Homo sapiens: one gene and its partners. The protein of the gene in region 4 interacts with the protein of the main gene of each other region in a pairwise test. Each region holds a gene or a part of one and is shown on either strand. Other genes may lie near its edges. The genes, in order: RHNO1, RFFL, DUSP10 and BACE2.

Region 1 (2,839 bases), on a different chromosome or scaffold from region 4:
CTGGCCTCTTAACTCCCGACCTCAAATGATCCACCCGCCTCAGCCTCCGAAAGTGCTGGGATTACAGGCGTGGGCCCGTCCTGGAGACTCTTTCCATCTACCTTTCTACCTCCTGTGGGCCTTCCTCAAACATCCATAGCCCACCGTGAGAGCCCCTGTCTAAATGTGTACTCTTGTCTCCAATAAATCCCGTCCCCAAATGTCAGTCCCTTTCTCCCTACCGACATGCACATTATAGTCCCTACAAAACATCCTGAGTCCTGACAAGTCACTGCACAAATGGCTTTATGGCGTTCTAAGGTCAAAGTTGTTTCCACATTGGTTTTGAACCTACAAGTTAGTACTTTAGGAGGCACACGCTGAGAGTGGACCGTTACACTGCCTGGGTCAGCGTGCACTCACTGTGTGACCTGTGCATGGTTCATTCTCTGCATCAAACTCCCATCTGTAAAATATACAGTAATCCCTGCTTGATCTAGTTGGGGCTGGACCTGACACAGTAGGTCCAGCTGAATGAATGCTAAATGAATGGGTTTAATGAGATGCTACTTGTCTGAGTAAAAGGCCGAGACATTCGGTTGACTGGGGAAGTCCTTCTGCATTAATTACAATAAGTAATACTCATTGAAAACTTTCCTTATTTACACACAGTTGAACAGTTATTCTAAGAAACCATTTTCCCACCCTATTTAATATTGACAGATTTCTTCAGTTAGAAACAAAAACTCAAAACACACGCAATCCTAAAGAACTCATCTATGTCCCCCTTATCTCCCCTCATCTTATGTAGTCCCTAAAACAGGGCTTGCTGCCCTTTCTTCTTCTTGCCTTTTCAGCAGATGAGTCAAGGTTGCAGAGGTGGCAGTCAACCATAGAGTCACAGAGTTTGATTTTTTTCCATCCATCAGGTCGTAGAAGCTGCCACTGAGCCTGACAAGAGTTGGTACTCAAAAATGCAGAATGAATTAGTTTGAATGAGGTGATTAAGGATTAATGAGTAGTGGTTAAGGAAACAAAGACCATTAGTGGATGGGGTAATATTGCTGTATTACTGATGGAAGCAGGATTCTCTAAAAAAACTTTCTGCAGCCATTTACTTACATACATTTTAAAGAGTTACTACAAGATATTTTAAAAATTTAAACAGTTAATACAAGAAAAATATGAAGTGAATAGTTCATGACACTAAACTGAACTGTTCATGACACAAAGTATCTTAGAAAACAAATCTCGGCTGGGCCAGCACTTTGTGAGGTCAAGGCCAGCAGATGACTTGAGGTCAGGATTTTGAGACCAGCCTGGCCAACATGGAGAAACCACATCTCTACTAAAAATACAAAAAAATTAGCCAGGCATGGTGGCTGGTGCCTGTAATCCCAGCTACTGGGGAGGCTGAGGCAGGAGAATCGCTTGAACCCAGGAAGTGGTGGTTGCAGTAAGGTGAGATCATACCACTGCACTCCAGCCTGGGCAACAGAGCAATATTACATCTCAAAAACAAAAACAAAAACCCTAGGAATTGAATTCCTTTATGACTCCAGAAAACATATCTCTTTTCTATTGAGATTACTGATGGCAGTCAGCTTTTCACAAGGAATTGGCTTCTGCTCAGCTTCCCTCTCTCCCTGAGGTAAGCAAGCAGGTGCTGTCGTCTCCTCCATGTGACCTTTATTCCATACTTGTCCTCGGGGGTGTCTTTAACCAGAACAGGTCCAGGCTCTGGGCTATTAGGAGTGCCAGTGTGAAGAGTGCAGCTTAGAAGGCTGTTTTCCTTCTGATCTTGGGGAATGAGTTCTTCCTTCACAGACGATGACTCTGGGGTCTGGATATCAGGTGGAATGAACACATAAGGTAAGCTCTGAAGTGCCTGCACTGACATGTTCCCACAGCTTTGGGGACTGAGCACTGGAACTAAGGGTCTTCTGGAAACATCCTTTTCTGATTCACTGGGGCACTCTCGGATTAAGGGGATCCCCAATGTCTCTGAACTGGAAGATTGCGGACTCTCAAAAGTTAGATGTGGAAACTTGGAGGTGGTAGGTTTTCGACTTGAGTGTCTCGCCCGGTTTTGGTGTTTCTGGTAGGCTGGGAACAAGCTTCCTGCTGCTGTATCAAAATCAGGTGATACCTTAAAAAAAAAAAAAAAGTGAGGTGAGCCTAACTAAGTACTAACCTAAGAGAGGAAACTGTATCTGATGACCAGACTCTTAAATCGGGGTCTACTGTAGTAATGAACACAAAACTAAAATAACTGTCTAATGGCATAATAACAGGAAGCTTTGGGCAAATTATTCCATCTCTCCGGCCTTCAGCTTCCTCATGTGTAGGAAAGGGGACGATGTCTCTTTCACTTCATCACACCATATGGATATAACTTTTTTTCTTCCCCCTGGGATGGAGTCTCACTCCGACGTCTAGGCTGGAATGCAGCGGCACCATCTCGGCTCATTGCAACCTCTGTCTCCCAGTTCAAGTGATTCTCCTGCTTCAGCTTCCCGAGTAGCTGGGACTACAGGCGCCTGCCACCACGCCCAGGTATTTTTTTTTTTTTTTTTTTTTTGGAGACAGAGTTTTGCTCTTGTCGCCCAGGCTGGAGTGCAATGGCAGGTCTCTGCTCACTGCAACCTCCGACTCCCTGATGCAAGCGATTCTGCTGCCTAAGCTTCCCGTGTAGCTGGGAATATAGGTGCGCACCACCACGACCAGTTAATTTTTGTATTTTTAGTAGAGACAGGATTTTACCATGTTGACCAGGCTGACCTTGAACTCTTGACCTCAGGTGATCCACCCACCCCGGCCTTCCAAAGTGCTGGGATTACAGGCATGAGTCACGGCACCC
Region 2 (7,920 bases), on a different chromosome or scaffold from region 4:
GCAGGTAACACATACAAAATAAGCAGCCATGGGCTCATGTTCATCAAATAGGAATGAAAAACCATGCCATCTAACAAAAAAGCTTCTAATATTGCAAAGAATAACGGTTTGAGCCCGGAGATCCACGTCAGCCACTCTCTCTGATGGTGCCAAGCTCTAGTCCAGGGACACCAAGTTCAGTCAAAGAACTCAACAGTCTAGTGGAAGAGACAGACAGTGCTGTCTGTCAGAAAAGACAGAGAAGTCAGAGAAGATGCATATATGAACTAAGTGTCCTGAGGGATGAGTATCTTGCCAGTTAGAGAAGGGAGAGTCCATTGGGAAAAGGCAGAGTCCTAAAAGACATGGTATATCCATGGAATGTTAACATGAGAAGTTCAGTGAAGCTGGAGAGGAGAGAAATGGCCAGGGGAGAGGGAGATGAGATGGTTAACAGCAACATGTAGGAAAGAATCCAACTGTGAAAGCTTTTAGAAGTCAAGCTAAGTGGAAAACAGGGAACAAATGGCACCTTAAATGAAAAGATTAGATGTGGACTTTAAAAAGATAACTTGGGCAACAATATGGAGAAGATAGGAGCAAGGAAAGACTTATGGAGGAGTGGCCATTTGATAAGGGTCTGAACTAGGAGTTACAAACTCAAATTCCTAGAGGCAATGCAGGTAAAATGCTAAGTCTTCAGTGTGTAAGATGTCAGAAAATGGTGGTATCCGTAATCTTTGAAGAGTACAGGCCTTCTCTCTGATGGTGCCTAAAAGTATTCACACACAAAATTTTAAGCCCTTAGGCTGACTGATTGATTTTTGGGATGGAGTCTTCTTCTGTGCCTAGGCTGGAGTTCAGTGGCACAATCTCAGCTCATTGAAACCTCCACCTCCTGGGTGCAAGCAATTCTCTTTTCTCAGCCTGCTGGGTAGCTGGTACCACAGGCACTGGCCACCATGCGTGGCGTGCCTTTTTTTTTTTTTTTAAATACAGACAGGGTTTCACCATGTTGGCCAGGATGGTCTCAAACTCTTTTTTTTTTTTGATATGGAGTCTCACTGTTGCTCAGGCTGGAGTGCAGTGGTGTGATCCTCGCTCACTGCAACCTCCACCTCCTGGGTTCAAGTGATTCTCCTGCTTCAGCATCCTGAGTAACTGGGATTATAGGCACGTGCCACCACGCCCAGCTAATTTTTTGTTTTTAGTAGAGATGGGGTTTCACCATGTTAGCCAGGCTGGTCTCAAACTCCTGACCTCAGGTGATCTGCCCACCTCGGCCTCCCAAAGTGCTGGGATTACAGGCGTGAGCCACCGTGCCCAGCCTGACTTTAAACGTCCAGTTTTGACCTCTGGTAAATTAAGGCAATGACAGTGGGAATGAAGAAAAGCCACACATCAAACAGTACTCCAACAAAATCAACAGGGTTTAGCACATTTAAAGATGTGAGCATAAAAAGAATGAACAAGGCCGGGCGCGGTGGCTCACACCTGTAAACCCAGCACTTTGGGAGGCCAAGGCAGGTGGACCATGAGGTCAAGAGATCGAGACCATCCTCGCCAACATGGTGAAACACTGTCTCTACTAAAAATACAAAAATTAGCTGGGCGTGGTGGCACGTACCTGTAGTCCCAGCAACTCAGGAGGCTAAGGCAGGAGAATCGCTTGAACCAGGAAGGCAGAGGTTGCAGTGAGCTAAGATCACACCACTGCACTGCAGCCTGGGTGACAGAGCAAGATTCCTCTCAGAAGAAAAAAAAAAGAGTTGATGAGAGGATCAGAGTTGAGAAAGTACAGTACAGGCTCTTGCTCATTCTACCCTTACTGAGAACCTACTATGTGCAACGTACCATGGATACAATTCTAGCAAAGCAGACCCTGATTCTCAATACATACTATGATTGGAGTAAATACCAGGTTCTCCTGAGTACTCAACCCTGGTAAGTAAGAAGAGGCTTCATGGAAGAGGTGACTTCTAGGCTGAAACCAGTTGGCCAGATTAAGCTTGGGGAAGGTGTGTAAAAGAACGCTTACATATGCTAAGGTCTGAGGTGAAAGAGAACGTGGGCAATTTGTTGGAATTATAAGGAGCAGAAACGTAATTTGGAGGGTGACGACTACCTAGAGATATCATAGTCTGATTAGGTGAAGGACTCAAAAGTTTGGCGATGAAAAGCAGGAGGGAGATAGAGTAGTAGCCTAGTAGAATTAGAGATGAGGGAGGTTCTTCCTATTAATTCAGAAAGGAATATGGGAACAAACTCACTGATAAGACAGTGTTCTCCACAACTCAATATTTAGTTATTAGGAAGGCAACCAAATGCCTTCACTTCTTTTCCTTTAACAATGGCTTAGTTTGACTAAAGTGTTTCTCACAAGATACACACAAAAAAACAAAATACAAGAGCAAATGACGGATAAAGCTGTAAACCTAACGTTTTACTTTTCTAAGATTTATATAATCAGTGATTTAATTGGACCTAACTCCACATCCAGAACTCAAATGAAAGAAAACTTCTGGCCGGGGGCCGTGGCTCATGCCTATAATTCCAGCACTTTGGGAGGCTGAGGAGGGTGGATCACCTGAGCTTGGGAGTTCGAAACCAGACTGACCAACACAGCAAAACCCTGTCTCTACTAAAAATACAAAATTAGCCGGGCATGGTGGCGCACATCTATAATCCCAGCTACTTGGGAGGCTGAGGCAGGAGAATCACTTGAACCCGGGAGGTGAAGGTTGCAGTGAGCCGAGATCACACCATTGCACTCCAGCTTGGGCAACAAGAGTGAAACTCCGTCTCAAAAAAAAAAAAAAAAAAAAAAAAAAAAAAAACCTGACTCACTTCTGAAGACAGGATTTTCCCAGTTTCTAATGCAGCTTCATCTAGCTAATGAAACTTAAGAAAACAGTTTGAGGTTACCTGATTTTGCCAGTTTCAAAACATTGCCACGACAGAAAGCAAGCTGTCTCTAGTTCCTGTGGCTGAGGTCGCTGGAGCCATGTTCAGATGAGATCATCTCAGGAACCAAGAGCAGCGGCTTTCATGTGAAGTGAATGGTGCCGCCTGGGGATGTATCTTTGGTAAGCAAGATTGCAACACAGCAGGGAGTTTACCCAGGGCAGTGCTGACTCACGCTGGGCAAAATTTGTACTTCCCAAACAACTCAGCCTGAACCAACCGCAGTCAACTGCAACCTAGGAAAGAAGAGGCAGCTCACTGATTGTTTTAAATCAAGTGCTGATTACTGGGGGCAGGTAAACCTCATTCCCCCACTACTGGTAACTTGGCCACCTCCAGAGCCCTTACCCAAAAAGTTCCAGTGGCCAGTTTCTAAAATTTCATCTGAGAACAGGCTGGGGCTGGGGCCAGCAAGATTACTGAACATAGCAGGTTCACAGCTCTGAAGATTTCCCCAGGAGGCTGATAAATAAGTCACTTTGCATTTACAAATTAGAACATCTGGGTCAGTGGACTCAGGGAACTTGCCCAGTCATCATTAGCCAGTCAAATCATTAGGGTGAATTTTTGTCAGTTCTAACCAGGCTCATTGTTCTTTTTTCCCACTAGGCCTCCTCTGACCTCTCTATTTCTTCAGACAACTCAAGTTCTCTCATTAAGATAGATGCACTGGAATTTTTTTTTTTTAATCAGCTGCCACATTCTCTATGCTAAAGCCAAATCATTTACCATCACACCTACTGGATGCATAGGGAATACAGAAGACTATGAAAATCACCTTAACACTTGCTCTGAAAAGAGACATCCCTAAATTTATGTCAATTCTCATTTATTAGCCTGCTTATTTAAAAAATCAATCTAGAATGACTGGCTCATCAACAGCTATTAATTACTGAATTTGCCCTGACAGGCTAGAATTGACATTGGTGTTATACAAAAAAAAAAAAAAAAGATCAAGTCCTTGCTTTTTGTGTGCTTTAATTTGACAAGAGAGAAACTAAAGTTCCTATTAGATCCTTCTGTTTCCTGCTTAAAATGTATGACAGTTCCCCAAGGCCATCAGCTATTTCTTAGCAGGGCATTTGAGGCCTCTGCACCCAGCTTCGTTCATCCTTTAAGGTAGGTCTCACATGGCATGAACTCTGGATGTAGCTGCCAACTCAGCTTGTCATTCAATAATGTTAGGTTAATTAAAATGTACGTGCAGACAGAATTTGAGTTTAAAAACTATACTACTTAATTTTCTATTCAAGGGGCTAGTTTTAAAAAGTTATTTATCCAACTCACTTAATTCTCCTTAATTACATTATTCCAGTAGGATAGCCACGCTGAGCTTTGATAAGGTATTATAAAATGTTCCCTGTTTTATTTCCTCCCCTTCAGTGTTTTCCTTTCAGAAAATGGCTTTGTTTAAAGAAGTTTCCCTATAGTACATGTTAATTAGTCCTTTCTGAATGATAAACACATCTTTATAGCAGCTGACAACCATTATCTCTTCAACCACACTTTAAAAAAAATTTCTGTAGTTGATGATAAGTTACAAATTCTAGTATGAAACAACTCTCAAGGTACAGACAAATATGGAACCTCCTTCAGAAAAAAAAAAAATGATTAGAAAAGCTCCTGACCTGTTCTGTATTTGCGAACTTTAAATAAGAGGGCCGGGCACAGCGGTTCACGCCTATAATTGCAGCACTTTGGAAGGCCGAGGTGGGCGGATCACCTGAGGTCGGGAGTTCAAGACTAGCCTAACCAACATGGAGAAACCCCCATCTCTACTAAAAATACAAAATTAGCCAGGTGTGGTGGCACATGCCTGTAATCCCAGCTACTCGGGAGGCTGAGGCAGGAGAATCGCTTGAACCCGGGAGGCAGAGGTTGCAGTCAGCCAAGATTGTGCCATTGCACTCCAGCCTGGGCAACAACAGAGCAAAACTTCGTCTCAAAAAAAAAAAAAAAAAAAGAAAGAGAAAATCCAGACAGTACTATGCCCAGGAGACAGATACGAACTATATAAAGAGCAGCCTGAAGGCCAAAGGCATGGAACTCCTAAGTTGACTAAGAGAAACACCATTGAGCAAGTGAACAGAGCTGCTGCAGCTTATCATTCCCCTCTTTGGGACTCTGATACAGTTTTAACCAACTGCCCCAAATTATAGCCACACTCCATCCTAGTTCTTCCTTTTAAAGTGGAAAGGTTGAGGATTACATTTTAGAGCTTAAAAAGGTACTCGTTTGAACTAGTGGTTTCAGGCACTTGAGGATTTATGAGGTTACATGAAAATTATGAGAATATGAGGCTATGGGAGAAATAATAACTGTGGCTTTCTGACTAAGTTCTTTCAATACATTATTTTAAAATTAGCCAGGCATGGTGGCATACACCTCTAACCCCAGCTACTCTAGAGGCTGGGGCAGGAGAATCACTTGAACCCAGGAGACAGAGGTTGCAGAGCCGAGATTGCGCCACTGCAATCCAGCCCAGGCGACAGAAGGAGACTCCATCTCAAAACAAAAAACAACAAAAACAGAAAATACGTTATTTTAAAACTCAAGTAACTTAACACCCAAAACTATTTATGCTTTTTTTAATAGGGTGGTCTCAACAGATATTTAATGAGTGTGCATATGTGTATGTGCCCATTGTTTCATTTGAACAGACATATGTGATGTCATTGACATCCCAGATTTACTTTCTTTTCTGCAATAGATCTTGACATTATAAACAATAAGCAGGTTTCAAAAGAGAAATTAAAATATCCATTTCTCAGGATTCTGTAGTCTTCCAAATCCACAGAAAATTACCAAATACATACAGAAGATCTGGGAGGATGCACACAGCAGGGAGAGCACTGTAATGGGAATAAAGATCAAATAGCTATGTTTAGCTTTATCCAAATTACCCCCCAAAAATCATGAATTTTTTTACAACAAGCATATATTCAAATATGACTTGGTAGTTTAAAATTCAGTTAAAATTTTAAAGTTTGTATCACTTACAAACTGCTTTACTCTCTCTTCACACTCTTTCCTCTCAACATCTCCCTTTTATCTACTTCCCTACCCCCAGCATCCTAAATGATACTGCACATTTCTTGTTTTTAACAAAATTAATCTTACTTGTGTCCACATCCTTTTTCTAACTGAGAAGTCGGTGAATGGATAAATGCACATTTCCAGGAATCAGTGCCTGTCTCACCTTGTTGATAATTAATGATTGCCAAATTCTAATCTTGGTGTTCAGTGACCTCACAGCCTTTTTTTTTTTTTAACTATAGAACATAGTATTTAAGAAAAACAATATGATGGCAACCAAATATTTATCATCTAATAAATCACAGAAATTAAACATGAAAAATGAAGTAAACTTTATGATACTCAACAATTAACTCTAGGGGTACTTAAGAATCAACAGGGGTGCTTATTGAAAATGAACATTTCTCATCCCAGTCCCTCAGACACTCTGAATTAGCAGACATGGAGGGAGGCCCCAGAAACTGAATTTTTTTTTTTTTTTTTTGAGACGGAATCTCACTCTCATCGCACAGGCTGGAGTGCAATGGTGCAATCTCAGCTCACTGCAACCTCCACCTCCTGGGTTCAAGCAATTCTCCTTCCTCAGCCTCCCAAGTAGCTAGGATTATAGGCGTATGCCACCATGTCTGGCTAATTTTTGTATTTTAAGTAGAGACAGAGTTTTGCCATGTTGGCCAGGCTGGTCTCGAACTCCTGACCTCAGGTGATCCACCTGCCTCAGCCTCCCAAAGTGCTAGAATTACAGACGTGAGTCACCATGCCTGGCCAAAACTGAATTTTTAATAAGTATCTCTCTCTTCCAAGCCTTTTTTTTTTTTTTTTTTGAGACAGAGTCTCGCTCTGTCGCCCAGGTTGGAGTGCAGTGGCACAATTTCTCGGCTCACTGCAACCTCCACCTCCGGGTTCAAGCGATTCTCCTGCCTCAGCCTCTCAAGTAGGTGGGATTACTATGCACCACCAGGCCTGGCTAATTTTTGTATTTTTAGTAGAGACGGAGTTTCGCCATGTTGGCCAGGCTGGTCTTGAACTCCTGGCCTCAAGTGATCCGCCCGTCTCAGCCTCCCAAAGTGCTGGGATTATAGGTGTGAGCCACTGCGCCCGGCCTTCCAAGCAATTCTGATACAGATGGGCCTTGGATCATGTTTTGAGAAAAAGGACACAGCTATGTTCCCTAAGCACTGTTTAGAGTAAAATGAAAAAAAGTTTTTTCAAAGACCTCCAAGCTGAACAGTAGTCACACTGAGCAGGTCCTAAACATAAGTCCGCTCACCCACAAGAACCACAAAAAATACAAACTGTATTCACTTTGTTGGTTGGACCATTATTTTCTTCAAGCCTTCAGAGACAATTATCCTAACTACCATTAAGGATTTCACCTGTCACCCACAGTCTTGTTATACTGAGACATTTTCACACCTGGATATGATACAAGGGGCTTAATGGAATTTTTATGGCTAAAAATTAAAGTTCATTTGACTCAACAGAATAGTCAAATAAAACAAAGGAGAAAACCCAAAGGAACAGGTTGAAAGTAGAGGCTTTTGACTTCCTGATGAGCCAATTTTGCCCAGAAATTCAAACCATGGGATGCTATATAGCTCATATGTCTTGAGAGTGCCCAAATGTCAACTTATCGCCAGAGTATCAGCCAGTGCAGGCTTACAGTAACATTTGGAAGCACAAATGTGCTGTATAAAATGGCCTCTCCTGGGAGATAGAGGCTGTCGCCATGGCAGAGATCATTCCATCTTGGGGCCAGAAGGACCAGGCAGTCCCTTTAATCTTTAACAAGCCACTTTCACATTTAGATACAGGAACTGGCACTGCATGAGGCTCAACCTGCTTCACAGCACTTTGCTGCAAAACAACCCCCCAGTTGTGTGAGGGCATGCTAACCCAGTCTGTCCCCACTGGTGCAGTTACCAGAATCTATTCTATAAT
Region 3 (7,037 bases), on a different chromosome or scaffold from region 4:
ACTTGATTCAGGAATAAATAAACTGGTATAAACACTAAACTTAGATGCTGCTCAGCTTATATTACACTCTCAGTGAAAGCTATTATGTTTATAAAACCTGCTGTGTTTTTACTAAAGCAAGACTGTAAGATTTCAGTTTATCCAATAATATAACAATGAAAATAAAATTGTGCCTATGCAGGTTGTGATATGGAGTTGTTCTTCGGGCTGAATGCTATTTGTTATTGGTTTTGTTTTCCTTAAAAAAAAAAAAAAAAAGGCAGGTAAGCCTGAATAATCTATAAGGAATGTGAGAAGGAGCTTTAGTTGAAATCCTCTTAGAACAAGTATATCTTACCCTACTCATTAAATAGAAAACAATTTCCTAACTTCCTCCAACTGGAGTTAAGTCAGATGGAATCTCAGTCATAACATCACATCATGTATCAACCAGAAGTTCCTCATATGCTTGTTGAGAAATTTTTCTTCCTCAGCGCTCCAGGTTTGGCTCAGATTTTATTAATAAAGAATCTGCAGTATCTCTGCATCCTCAGTGTTGCCAGTTGGGAATTACTTAATAGGGCATCATAAACATTGCCTTAGTGTGTTGTGAAAAGGCCTCAGGCTTGGGAGTCAAAAACCCTGGATTCTGGCCCCTTCTTGGACACTAGAATTCCTATGACCTTGAAGAAGTCACTTTACTTCTCTAAGTTCAGTGATCACCCTGAATTTCCTTTCAGACTCAATATTCCATGGTCCTGTGCTGACGGCATAATTAGCAAGGAAAACAGCTTGGCAAAATGACCAGAGATGTCAACACTACAGCAAATCCACCAGACCCCACTGGCTGTTAAACCTGAGGCTGTTTTTTTCTTTCTCTGACAAAGGAACACCCCACTCCACTTAACTGTATTCTTCCTGGAATAACAACCTGCTGTAATATTTAGGAAAAGTACTAGGCCACCCCTTTATGGTAATAAAAGTTGAAGTTACGTAAAAAAAAATAAATGTTGAGTTTTGCTATATTGCAGGTGCTCCCAAAATGATATTTTGAGTGTTTTTTTTTTTTTTTGAGACAGAGTTTCACTGTTGTTGCCCAGGCTGGAGTGCAGTGGCGTGATCTCAGCTCACTGCAACCTCCGCTTCCCAGGCTCAAGCGATTCTCCTGCCTCAGCCTCCTGAGTAGCTGGGATTACAGGCATGCACCACCACGCCTGGCTAATTTTGTATTTTTTTAGTAGAGATGGAGTTTCTCCATGTTGGTCAGGCTGGTCTCAAACTCCTGACCTCAGGTGATCCACCCGCCTCGGCCTCCCAATGTGCTGGGATTACAGGCATGAGCCACCGCGCCCGGCGATATTTTGAGTCTTATAGCAGTTTGGGGCTATAGAAGTTGCAGAAATTAAGATTAGGATTAGGCTAATAGTTGCTTCCTTCTGGGGATCAAAGCGTGCTGTTGCTAAAACTTCCTCCTTGGGAACTACTCCGTCTACACAACCTGATCTTTCCTAGTTCAATGAGTTTGGGGCAGACTGTCAAAGGAAACCTAGTACCATCTCCCCTTATGCTGGATGAATAAGGCTTAGTAGGGTGACCGGAAGGCATAGGTATGTTTGGAAGGGGTGTCATATTCACTAGATATTGCTTCCAAGGTGCTCAACGGCGCTAGTAGATCAAGTAGCAGTAGCACCAGCTCTGACCTCCGATTCCTTACTTTCCATCCACTTTTCTGGTTACAGAGCACATAAATGCTAACCCCTACCACTATTTCACTGAGAACTTGAGGGATGAGGATTTCTAGTTGAACAGATCCCAACAAATTCAATTACTGTCCTTTTATATCCATCCTGATGGCTTGGATACACTCGACAGGCTATGACTTAGGAGAATGCTTAGGCTGTTTCAGGTGGCAGAGCCCTCCAAAACTCCAGGGCAGCTTTTCTTTTCCAACACAGGAATAAACCTTGAACTTGATATCAAAGCAAGAGCTGGAGGGAAAAGGAAGGCAGCGGATGAAAATTCCCTATGGGAGATAGTTACCAATGAACTCAAAAGCCTCTTCAAAGTACTGCCGCAGGTTCTGCTTGTTGCTGTCAGTGGCTGGCAGCCGCTTGTAGTTGAACAGGCCTTTCTCATAGTGGTAGAGGGGAAGATGAGTGGTGACGTTGATGACGTAGCCGATGTTCAGCCGCTGCATGGTGTCCAGGTCCTGAGCATCCTGCTCATTGCCAAGGAACAGGAAGGGCAAGATGGGGGTGAGCTCAGCGTTCTCGATGTCAGGGGTGGTGGGGATGGGCTGAGGTAGCAAGCTCGAGGCCGCGGATGCGCCGCCCCCCACCTCCCGGCACTCTTGGAGCTGGAGGGAGTTGTCACAGAGGTTTTCATGGTTCTGCTTAAAACTACTAAGTCCACCTAGAACACAAACACAGAAGGTGAGTGTGACTGAGATTTCAGAGCTGGCAGAGAATGCCACCTCCCCATTAGAATGAGTTTGCATTGTAGCTCATGCATATTTTAAATACATATATAAATATGTATTTAAGCAAAAAAAATAAAAATAAAAATAAAACAAAACAAAACAAAAACTAAAAGTCCATTTGGAGACCCAAGACAAGCTTCGGGGAGTATCACTGCATGGAACACTTTGGAAATGTGCTCTTTCTACAAATGAGGGCATGTTCCCCTAGCAAGAGTTCCACGCGGCATCAGGCAATCTTCCTCAGCTGCAAATGTGACCTGCCTCAAAGAGCCATATGCTCAGTGGCCTACATAGAACCCTGTGCTTTGGGAGCCAAGAAAGGCACAGATGACCTCCTCGGGTGGAATCTCAGCACCACAGGAGCATGTCTTGCACCCTTCATAGCTCACCTCACCCAGAGGGACAAGTTTGCTCCCAATACAGCAGAGTGGTTACAAGCAGGAACATTGGAAGAGACAGGTTATCTTGATTATAATCTGGGTACCATCATTTCCTGACACTATTACTTAAGTTCATTTATCTCTGTGCTTCAGTTCCACCATCTGTAAACTGAGGGTGATGGTGTCTCCCTTTGAGTGCAATTGTGAGCCTGAGATAAATGAATACGTGTAAAATACTTAGCACATCTCCTGGCACACAGTAGAACTCAGCAGGCATTCACTATTTTAATTTATATTATTTATATGATTGCCCACAGGTGAAATCAGCAGAGAAGTACTTGGAAAAGACAAGCCAGGGTGGGGTGTGAAGGACTGCTCTTATAATCTTTTTTGATATTCTCCACGTAGGGCCCTGACATTTATCAACCCTGACTTTCAGTAGAACAGAATGTGAGAGCAGCGCGGTTGCTTACTCCTCGACTTTCCAAGGCTTGTGGGCACATAAACCCATCAAGAAACCTCTTTTGGATGTGTGAATGCATGCTTTTGAGCTTACGGCTCTGCTCTGCCTCCCACGAGTTATGGGTCTAGTATAAAAAGCTTATAAACTGTGCTTATTTCTCCATTTTTAAAATGCAAACCTTCCCCTGAACAAGTGCAATCTCACTTTTGGGAATGGATCTTAGGGAAATCATCTAACCAAAGATAGTTAGCTAGATATATGGAGATGTTCACTACAATGTTATCTGTTTTATATATATTTTAAAAAGGCCAAGTAAAACACAAAAATAAAAGAAAAAAAGTTATTACATTCATTCCACGGAGTATTATGTAGCCTTTAAAAGAGTAGTTGCAAAAAGGATGTGAAAATAAATAAAACATTTTGGTTTAATATTAAATTTTTTAAAAGCTAAGTAAAAAACATTGACCAAAAGCTGAAGAACTGTACAAAAAACGAACAATTGTTTAAATTAGGGAATTTACGGATCATAGTTTATTGTTTAAATTTTCTGCTAATATTTTTACACACAATGGCATGCACAGATAAACCCAAAGGATTATTACAAAGCTCAAATTATAATAATATACATGTAAGTGCTATAAAATCTGGATTGACATTATTAGTGCCAACTGAGCTCTAACCCTACTCAAACAGAACTAGATACACTCTGGCTTTCCCTTTGAAAAGAGGGGGAAGTGGAAAAGTCCTATTAGCTGAAAGCCACCAGAACACAACATCTACCCTCAAAGACAGATGGCTTGTGGCTGTCTTGATAGTTCCAGGAGATAAGGCAGAAAACCCAAAGCATGAACAAGAGACGGTTATGTTGCAATAAGGACAGGAAGTCTATCTGTCCACTAGCCTCTGAGCCTGGCATATGTTCTTCTCCATTTCAAGTCTCATCTTTGACAAACCACAGCGGGAAACTCCAGACCATAACCTAGACCGAGTCTCATGACTTTTCACAACCAATGGACCCGGAGCTGGCTGTGTAAAAGAGAGAAATCATATTTTCCTTAAGGTATGGTTATGATCCAAAGAAAACTCAAAGGGCAATATTATGTTCACTTTACTCATTGAAAGTAAGAAGTCAAAACCTACCCTAGCTTTTTGAAAAGAAAAACAAGAGCTATATACGAATTTCAGTTGATTTCTAGAATTAACCTCTGCCCTTACATATGATAGTTTATTCTGCTAGGCAATTATGACAATAAAGTTTGAACCTGAAGAGATAATTCTGAAGTAGAAGAAAGAAAATATGGAAAATAACTTCACCAGTGAAGACTTAAAAAATAAATAAGATAAAAACTACCCATTGTCATCATCACAGCCTCCACAAAAGGGATTCTGAAGAGTTAAAATCTGCTCAGCTTCGCCTCCACAAAAACCCAAATTCCACACAGATTCTGTGATGGGAACCTAATTCACTTTTTTCTTCAAAAAAGGCAGTTGTTACATTTTTCCATATAAGATGAGAGGGAAGAACAATAAAACAAATTCAAAAGAAGGCTCTAAAAGCAGGGGAAAAACCTCTCTGTTCTTATTTAGGGTACTCAAGCTGTAATTTGTCTTAAAAGCAGCTAGTTTAAAAAAAAAAAAAAAAACCAACACATGCTAGAAAACCCCACACACAGAAAAAAGCAGCGTCCAGCTTTTTAAAATTCTGCCTCTACACCTCCTTTCTCAATGACATCAGCTGGAGGCTCCCCACCTGCCCAGTTGCCATAGCAGTTACACAAAGACATACAATGACATCAGTTGGCATGATATCAGCTCTTTGAGTGCAAACAATACAAGAAGAACTACTTTGTTTAAGGCCTTTGGTGCAACTGTGTTCTGGGGAGCCAATGATGTAATGCTAACAGGTGGCATGGGCCTTCCATTTGCCTAATGGGGGGAAAAAAACCCGTGGCGGAGTGGGGGGAGGAGGGAATTTGAGACAGACACACAGAATGCTCCAAATCACAGAGCATGCTTATGTGCAAAAGTATGGGTGCATTGTATGTTTAAGCCATGTAGGAACTCTGTTCTTATAATATTTGGAGGTGGGAGGGGTGGGGGTGGAGAGAAAAGGAGATATTACAATTTAAACATATAAGGTAAACAAGGAAATTCTCCTTGAGGGGTCTGAAGAAATAGTCTCCTGTTCAACTGCCACTCTGCTAATCAACTTGGGCATCAGTTTTCCATAAGGCTTATGCACAGCTCTGTACTGCAGTTAAAAACTCTCTCTGTGGACGGTGCTTAAAGTAAAAAACAACGAGTGGAAGCTCACAGTGGTGGCTTTTTCCAGAGAAGTCTGCAGGAAGGATTGTTTTCTTCTCTTGGGGAAGGGTTGAAATTGAAATCTGGAGGGGAGGGGGAAGAGTAAAGCTAATCTGGTTTTTCTTTTCCAGTTACTTTCCTCCGACCCTACCCCATCAAGTATCACCAGAGGCCAAAGTGACTGATCACTTAATGAGGAACCCTGATGATGTTATGTTTATTACTATTTAAGAATATTAGAACATGATAATTAACAAACAAAGCAGGAGCAGTGTAGCATGGAGGTTAAGAGCAAAGGTCAGAGACAAACCACACCTAGCTGCAGTTATGATTCTGCCTCCTAGCAGCTGTGAGACCCTGTGCAAGTCAGGTTCCCTCATTAAGCCTCAGTTTACCAATCTATTAAGTGGATGTAATATCATCTACCCATCAGGGTCATAGTTCAGGAAGCCTATGTAAAGGTTTTGATACACGACCAGGTATTCGATAAATAATGTCTTATTACCCCCAATATCATCACCTTTGTTCTAAATTCCAACAGATCTATGCACACGCATAGTCCATGAGAGCCCTAAGTGCAGTGCAGTGATTCAGAGAAGGAGTATTGAGGCTGGACTTCTTGGGTTTGAATCCCCAGCACAGCCAAACACTAGCTATGAGACCCTGGGCAGGTTTCTCACCTGTCTGTTCCTCAGTTTCCCTGTATACAAAACAGGGATAACAATAGTACCTACCTCACTGTACTGTTGTAATGATTAAAGTGGTTAATAAAGTACCTTAAAACAATGTCCAGCACATTGTAAGTGCTTTTTCTTTTCATCACTTTGGGAAACTACCATTTTAAAGATCTAAAAAAAAAAAAATCTGCTTAATATAAAGACTCTATATAAGTAAACTAATGTTCCTGAGTTTTTACTTTTAAAATTTTATTTAACAAAAAAGAATTAGGAACCAAGGTATCCGAGCAGTTTTAAAGTTTGCAAAACATACTTTTAACATAAAGAAAGCAACAGCTCCCTATTTTTCCTAAACAAATATATCTGATTTCACTTTGTTGGTCCTAGCTTTCCTAACAAACACTGTCTTTGCATTTCTGGTTTTTCCACAGAATTGGATTTTGAAAATAAAACTGTTCTTCCCTCCTTCTTCCTTTCCTCTAATTTCTACCAAGGTGGCTAACTTCCTTATGTGCACAAGAGCCTGCAGTTATTAGTGCGAACATATTGTAGCCATGAGCAACAATGCTGGGGTAGGGTGAGGCAAGGCGGGGTGGGGGGGCAGCAAACATTTTCAAAGCTTATGTCAAAAGTAGGTTCTCTGCCAAAATGAGTATGGTCAGTACATTGATTCTAAATGGCAGCAACAAAGAATACCTAGCACCCCTAAAGAACTATATGTGGAAATACTGCCTGCCAGTTTCTTCTAACACACG
Region 4 (7,037 bases):
AGAGGCGCTGGGCCTGAGCCAAGCGGGCACTGCGGCAGGGTCGGAACGAGCCCAGGTCTCGGTGCCTCTGCATGGGCTGCACCTTGTACAACACTCCCCGCTCCAGGTTCATTTCTAAATACAGAACTCCAAACCCTTAATTTCTAGAATCCCATCTGAACAATCCATGCCAGGGGACAGAGCTCCACGTTTTTATTGTCTTTCACTCTCTGAAGCCAGCCCTCCCCTTAACCAGAAGGAAACCCACGCCAAGAGGTTTGGCTTACTGGAACTGGTAGATAAGAAAAACAAACACAGCTTTGGTCCAGAGACGGTAAGCCAGACACACAACGCGCCCTTGTGATGCTTTCCCTGCCCAAGACAAACAACCTTCCCATGTTTCTCCCTCCTGACGCAGGCACCGAATGAAATCAGAGGATAATTTTAGACAACGCAAACAAATGTTGTGATCTCATTCCCTCTACCTCGTGGTTTTCGGCTCAGCGCATGCCACGATGAGCTCGGGAGTGCGAGCGCCCCACGGCCCCGCCGCCCCGCCTCTCACGGCACAGGGGTCTGGCCGGTCCACGACGTGCTGGATTTTCACACTGCGCTTCAAACACGTCCTCGGGATGGTGGACAGACTTTTCCATTCAGGATATGAAGTTGGAAGATACTCCCGTTAATTCTGCTGAGGGCATTTTTACTATTTAAGAAATGAGGGTATCGCTCCTTATTTTAAGTAGGGTCTGATTTTGAGCAAGCGTTCTAAATTTAAGGCACTAAAAATGTTGCCTGCCACTTTCTCTGATTCAGCAGATAGTGGGAAGGATGGAGACTCTGCCGTGGCTTCAGCTGCAGCTGCGCCAGTGGCTGGCCGCCTTGAGACCTGCTGCTTCGAAAAGAGCCCGCGTCCTTTCCTGCCTATTCCCCCTCTGTGTCCGTTTCATCCACGTGCCGCTCTTCCCGCAGCAGTTACAGGTGTTTGAAGTTCAGGACAACCCAAAGCCCTCTCCCGCTTGTCACGTTTCTGCTATGAGCTGTTAACAAGGCACCCACCATACGTGCTCCTATCGGCCACTCTTTGAATTCAGCCATCACAGCAGAGTAGCGGGACAATCAGCCCCACGCCAGGGCCGCAGTACAGGCTTTGTGCAGGAAACACTTTCTGACGATCTCACAAGGAAGGCCCAGATGCTATGAGAACACTCAGGCAGCCAAAAGTCATGTTCCTCTCGCATCTGAACAAATAGCAGCAACGCCGTGGTTGCATGTTTCATGGAAGCTCCAAGCATCTACTAAACACCAAGCATTTGACCCAAAACTCACAACCACCCCTCAGTTGAGAAGACGGAGGCTCTCAGAGGGCACAAAACCCCTCGCCAGGCATCCAGCTAAAAGTGGCAAAAACTACACTAAATTTAATTCTATTTCATCCCCAAAGCTGTCCTGTATCCAATGTTTATTGCCCTGAACTGACTGGAAAGTTGGGGTCACACCAGAAATACCATCAGCCAGGTCCCGAAAAGGCATATTGTCCACAATCATAATTTTAATTGTATTTCAGAGCATGGCCATAAAATAATTATTAGATTGGCTGATTGTTCTTTGTCTTCTGTGAAAAAATGGTATTCTTTTATACAAACAGAAGTTAAGATACCAGTGCAGGGATGAAAGCCAAAAAGGAGTAAAATTTTTGGTTTGTTTTGTTTCAAAGGCTATAAATTTATTCTCGATTTATTGTTTACTCTAACATAGCTATATTAGCAAGTATTGTTTTTTGCAGATTAAAAAAATACTATACCAACTGAACTATTATTTGAAATACTAGAGGGCATTGCACATTCAGATCCAAGTCCTCTGAGGTTCATGAAGGTACTATTTGCTAACATCAAAGAAAGGGACTGTGAAATTAACAAGTAATAGTTGAAACAAAACCCTTCAAAATATAAAGATTTTAAATACATATAAAATATATTTACATATTACACCTATACTATTACATATAAAATATACAAATACACAATATGAAAATTGGAAATACATGGCGCAATAGTTCAGAGATGCTCAGAACACGCAGTGCTGCTCCTCAGCAGGTGACTGTAACTCAGCAACTCGGGGACCCGTGAGTGTCCCGAGGACTCACCAGAGATGCGCGGGCCACAGCTTCCACCACCGCATCAAACACCTTCTGGGGCAGGCGCAGCAGCGTGGTGCCACTGTCCACGATGGCCTTGTCTGCGTTATACTTGAACCGGGAGAGAAAGGGAAAGGTGCGTGAGTGACAGTGGCGCTCCCCGCCCCACGTGGCTCTAGCCGCCATCACCATCTGTCTGTTACACACAAATCCAGGCAGCCACACCAGTCATCATGGACTGTGTAGTTCATTCATGTTCTCAGAACTGGGGAACCAGGGGTCTTCCAACCCAACACGCTCACTTCAGAGACAAGGAAATGGACCCAGGAAAGGGAGGGGACACGGCCCAAATTAGCAAATCAATAGCCCTCCCAAGGCACAGCTCTTTCCTTACTCAGAGGTGCCCAAGTTCCTTCATTGAGGACCTGCACTCCTGCCCCAGGGCAGAGGGAAGACCTATTTGTCTTTTGAGGCTGAAATATATTAAAAGCCATTTGTACAAACTGTACACAAATCAATTCTCTATGACCTCACTAACGAAGAGAAGGATGGACAATTTTTCAACAGACATCCCATATTTGCACTGGGAACAGAACCAGGGCCACAGTGCATCATAGACTGAGACACACACAGGCGCTGCCAGCCCTGTCCTCACCTGCAATGTTCTTCATGTGGCAGAGGGAGGAGAATGGACACCAGTGGCCAACACCAGATGAGCCACCCCAACCACTACGGGCACAGCTGCATAGGCAAGTCTACCCAGGGATGGAATGAGTCCTGGGTGACCTGATCCTCCTGCCTTAAGGCAAATCCATGAGTCACATGACCAATACACCAATCGGGTCAAAAGGAAATAAGGGAAGAGGGGTTCAGAATTTTAAGAAAATGAAATATACCAATGTATTAGTATTCTTCACAAATATTAAATTATTTTCAGTGTAAAAACAAACTTAATTTAAAATCTAACTTAGCGTGTTCATAAAATTTTCAGTTTTTTAATATGTAAGAAAAGTAAATATGTAAAATATGCAAACTGAAATGTTGCGCTAAGATGTCCTGGGATTTGTTGTTTGTTCTTTTGTGGGGTGGGTGCATATGGGGTGGGCAGGAAAGAACCTAGAATCTAAGAATCACACCTCCAAATACAGGCTTTTCCTCTCTAATACACACACACACACATACACACACACTCACACACACACACACACAGAGGTTTTGTATTTTGTTTTACATTCGGACATTCGATTCTACCACTGGGTTCTTAATTGACAAATAAGTGCCTCTTGACAATAAACACAGATTTGCAATAGAAGCGACCATCATTTTTATAATCTTTAGTTTCTCAGAGGTGTCAGGCCTCTGAGCCCAAGCTATGCCATTGCCATCTTATCCCCTGTGACTGTGACCTGCACCTATACGTCCAGATGGCCTGAAGCAAGTGAAGAATCACAAAAGAAGTGAAAATGGCCGGTTCCTGCCTTAACTGATGACATTCCACCACAAAAGAAGTGAAAATGGCCAGTCCCTGCCTTAACTGATGACATTACCTTGTGAAATTCCTTCTGGCTCATCCTGGCTCAAAGGCTCTCCCACTGAGCACCTTGTGACCCCCACCCTGGCCAGCCAGAGAACAACCCCCTTTGATTGTAATTTTCCACTACCTACCCAAATCTTATAAAGTGGACCCACCCCTGTCTCCCTTCACTGACTCTCTTTTCAGACTCAGCCCACCTGCACCCAGGTGAAATAAAAACCTTGTTGCTCAAACAAAGCCTGTTTTGTGGTCTCCTTACATGGACGCGCGTGACAAGAGGTACCTGCATATATGAGAATTGATGTTGGGATGTGATGGGTAATACGAACAGAAGTGCTAACAGGTTAGAATATAATGACATCCCCATGGTTTTTATAAAGCATTCTAAAAGTGCTATAGAAGACTGAGGCTCTCACAAGTCATCATAATCATAATGTCATAATGTGTCACGAACAAGCCAGAACTCAGTGAGAAGGCATGAACATGGTCCTGAGGTTTGGTGTCAGAGCTCTGTATGTGGCCACTTTAGCACTACCAAGCCACACACATCTATACAGCATGACCGTTTTTTAGGGAGAATTGGGTACTCTGGGGGCCAGGCTAGCTGTGAATGGAGGATAAAAGCTGATGATCTTTTCGGTTTCATTTTGCTTAATTTTCGTCCTTCTCTGTCCTACACTGATTAAAAATCTGTTTATTTCAACCTCTTAAACTGAGCTTAGGGACCATCAATCCAAGATGAATGAATGGTGAAAGGTGTAGCTCAGATAGTCCTCTTCACTCACCATTTAATGGTAATTTTGCCCTATGAAGATAAGTGGTTGGGAGGATGCAATATTTGGGGTGGGGAGGGAGGACAATTAATTGATTTCAACTTACTGTACAGCAAGGCCCTGCATCTTTTCATGTAATGAGCCTTTATCTTACGAGGTAATGTACCTTCTATTGGCATCTACGGGTTCCAGCTGGCATATTTAAGGGACCCAGACATACACAGAAAGACACAACAGAGACCATAGCATAAATACCTCTCTGCAGTCCAGATTAAGGCTTTGGCCTCCAATTTCCAATTTCAGAATTTCTATCTGGTAGTACCACTCTTCCTTAATAGGGGTATACCAGATGTCTCCTTTATACAAACTTGGTTCAATTCCACCCAAGACCTGGGACAGGAAATATTTACAGGTATAAGAGAAAAAATACACAGACATATCAACAGGTTACACAGAGAAGCATGCACTTGTAAAGAGAAACTTCACTGCAATCAGGGCTTCTACTTCGTGACAATGTCATGAAACAAATATCAATGCTTAAAAAATAAACAAGGAGCCAGGCGCGGTGGCTCACGCTTGTAATCCCAGCACTTTGGGAGGCTGAGGTGGGCGGATCATGAAGTCAGGAGTTCGAGAACGGCCTGGCTAGCATGGTGAAACCCCATCTCTACTAAAAATACAAAAATTAGCCGGGCAAGGTGGCGCGCACCTGTAGTCCCAGCTTCTCAGGAGGCTGAGGCAGGAGAATCGCTTGAACAGGGAGGCGGAGGCTGCAGTGAGCTGAGATCGCGTCACTGCACTCCAGCCTGGGCGACAGAGCGAGACTCCATCTAAAAAAAATAATAATAAATGAAATAAAATAAAATAAAATAAAACAAGGAATTTTATGGGTCCACGTCTGCAAAGGTCAGATGGTATTAGGCCCTCATCTAATCAAGATGCTTTGGAGGTTTCTCTTATCCAAAGAAAGTACATACAAGTTTAGCTTTACAATATTGAGATTTTTCCTTCAAAGAAATGCAATAAAACAGTTAACCACACTGACTGACAATTATTTAGTTCCTTGGAGGTCAGAGAACAGAAGATCAAGCACTTCCCTGATCAAAGCTTCATTGTGCAAAATCATAAAACATTTCCTCATAAATCCTATGCTGTCCTCTGCCTGGAAATGGTAGCAAATGAAAGTAGCTGAGGACCGGGGTGCAGATCCTGCCTCTCATAGTCAGACAGCAAAGGGACTGGCAGCACCCCCTTCTAGTGCATTCTTCCTGTCCCCTACTACTTTTGACGTCTGGGTGCCGGCCCCTGGAGGGAAGCTCAGGCTCCAGCACCTCCGTAGTGCTGACGGCCTTGATTCTGTTTCAGCAGCAAACACTTGTGCTGTGGTGCGTGTGTGCCTGTGTGTGTTGAGAGAGAGAGAGAGAGAAAGGATCTACAAGGGCCCCTGTTTCCCTGCCAAATTTATGAACTCTCCTTTGGCCCCCTACCCACAGTCAGGTCCACTCACCACGCCCCCCACCGCTCCTCACTTGTCCCTCCCCCACCCACAGAAAGCAGTGCCCTTCCAAGGGCGGTAAAGAAAAGTTTTAATGGAATTCGGAGAAGCGATGAGAATCATCCTTCCAGATGGCAGGATGACATAAAGGATTGCCTAATTTTAGCCATTTCTAAAAAGATCTACTACAAGGAGGATGAAAGTTTTACAGTACCTACGCACACCTACATGCCTAATATTTCTGCTCAGGTGTTTAATAAAACAGAAAAAAACAGCCCATCCATCTGTGATTTTTCGCCCCTTTAAGACTAAAAGATACCCACAAGACTACCTCCGTTGGTCCCAGATCCAGCAACGGGCAAGCCGGCTCCACACATCTGCATGGAGAAAACGTTGGGGATGTTTGCTTGTGTCACCAGGGAGTCGAAGAAGGTCTCCAGAGAACTTGATGGCTGCGGGAGGGCGACAGAGAGGGGCACCCGCTTAGGACTCACAGTGTAGACATGGGTCACCCAGTGTAGACGCCACGCGCCACAGACATTCCTGGTGTTTATACTCAATTTTTTCATGGTTCAACAGTACACCAGCTTGTGATTGGGTCTAGGAATTCAGAAAGCCCCAGCAGAGCTTCCCACTGGTTGGCATTCTTCCTTTGGGCACGGCTCTGTTGTACAAATAAGATCATATTTCTGGAAGCCATTCGACGCAGTCACATCTATCATCATGACTGCCTTGTGAGGGGGTGTGAGAAGCCGTGGAAGTAGGTTACCGTGGCAGGTGGTGGATCCTAATCTTAGGCATTTGAGAGTAAGGAGAGAAGAGTTTCTCTAGGAGCTGCCATGGCCGCAGACATCTTTGTTTGCCTGTCAGCCGCAGCTGTCCACCATGCAAATGAGAGGTGGCTGACCTGGGAGGACAGTATCCCCCGGACCCCAGAGCCTGGGGTGAGGCTTAGCTCTGCCAGATGAACTCTGGCAGGAAAGAAGCAGGAAAGGCACAAATCTATACTCCAGAAGCATAAAAGGCTTCTTATTCCCCCAAGGCCAGATTTCAGAAGCCCTCGTGTGCTCTGTGTCTCCCTCACATCCAGCAAGACATACAGAGGATGCCCTCATTTCT

The links.
Region 1: the proteins of BACE2 (region 4) and RHNO1 interact in binary tests that used the Homo sapiens proteins (3 or more experiments, as listed by UniProt).
Region 2: the proteins of BACE2 (region 4) and RFFL interact in binary tests that used the Homo sapiens proteins (3 or more experiments, as listed by UniProt).
Region 3: the proteins of BACE2 (region 4) and DUSP10 interact in binary tests that used the Homo sapiens proteins (3 or more experiments, as listed by UniProt).

The regions. Positions count from the first base shown.
Region 1 is NC_000012.12:2,887,200-2,890,038, reverse strand, and holds the end of RHNO1 (RAD9, HUS1, RAD1-interacting nuclear orphan protein 1), read right to left. Parts: intron 2,129-2,839; coding exon 1,580-2,128; 3' UTR 515-1,579; downstream 1-514. UniProt on the Homo sapiens protein: Involved in microhomology-mediated end-joining (MMEJ) DNA repair by promoting recruitment of polymerase theta (POLQ) to DNA damage sites during mitosis.
Region 2 is NC_000017.11:35,060,672-35,068,591, forward strand, and holds the start of RFFL (E3 ubiquitin-protein ligase rififylin), read right to left. Parts: upstream 3,037-7,920; 5' UTR 2,905-3,036; intron 1-2,904.
Region 3 is NC_000001.11:221,704,076-221,711,112, forward strand, and holds part of DUSP10 (dual specificity protein phosphatase 10), read right to left. Parts: intron 2,392-7,037; coding exon 2,020-2,391; intron 1-2,019. UniProt on the Homo sapiens protein: Protein phosphatase involved in the inactivation of MAP kinases. Has a specificity for the MAPK11/MAPK12/MAPK13/MAPK14 subfamily. It preferably dephosphorylates p38.
Region 4 is NC_000021.9:41,241,152-41,248,188, reverse strand, and holds part of BACE2 (beta-secretase 2 isoform A preproprotein), read right to left. Parts: intron 6,371-7,037; coding exon 6,242-6,370; intron 4,814-6,241; coding exon 4,679-4,813; intron 2,228-4,678; coding exon 2,126-2,227; intron 1-2,125. UniProt on the Homo sapiens protein: Responsible for the proteolytic processing of the amyloid precursor protein (APP).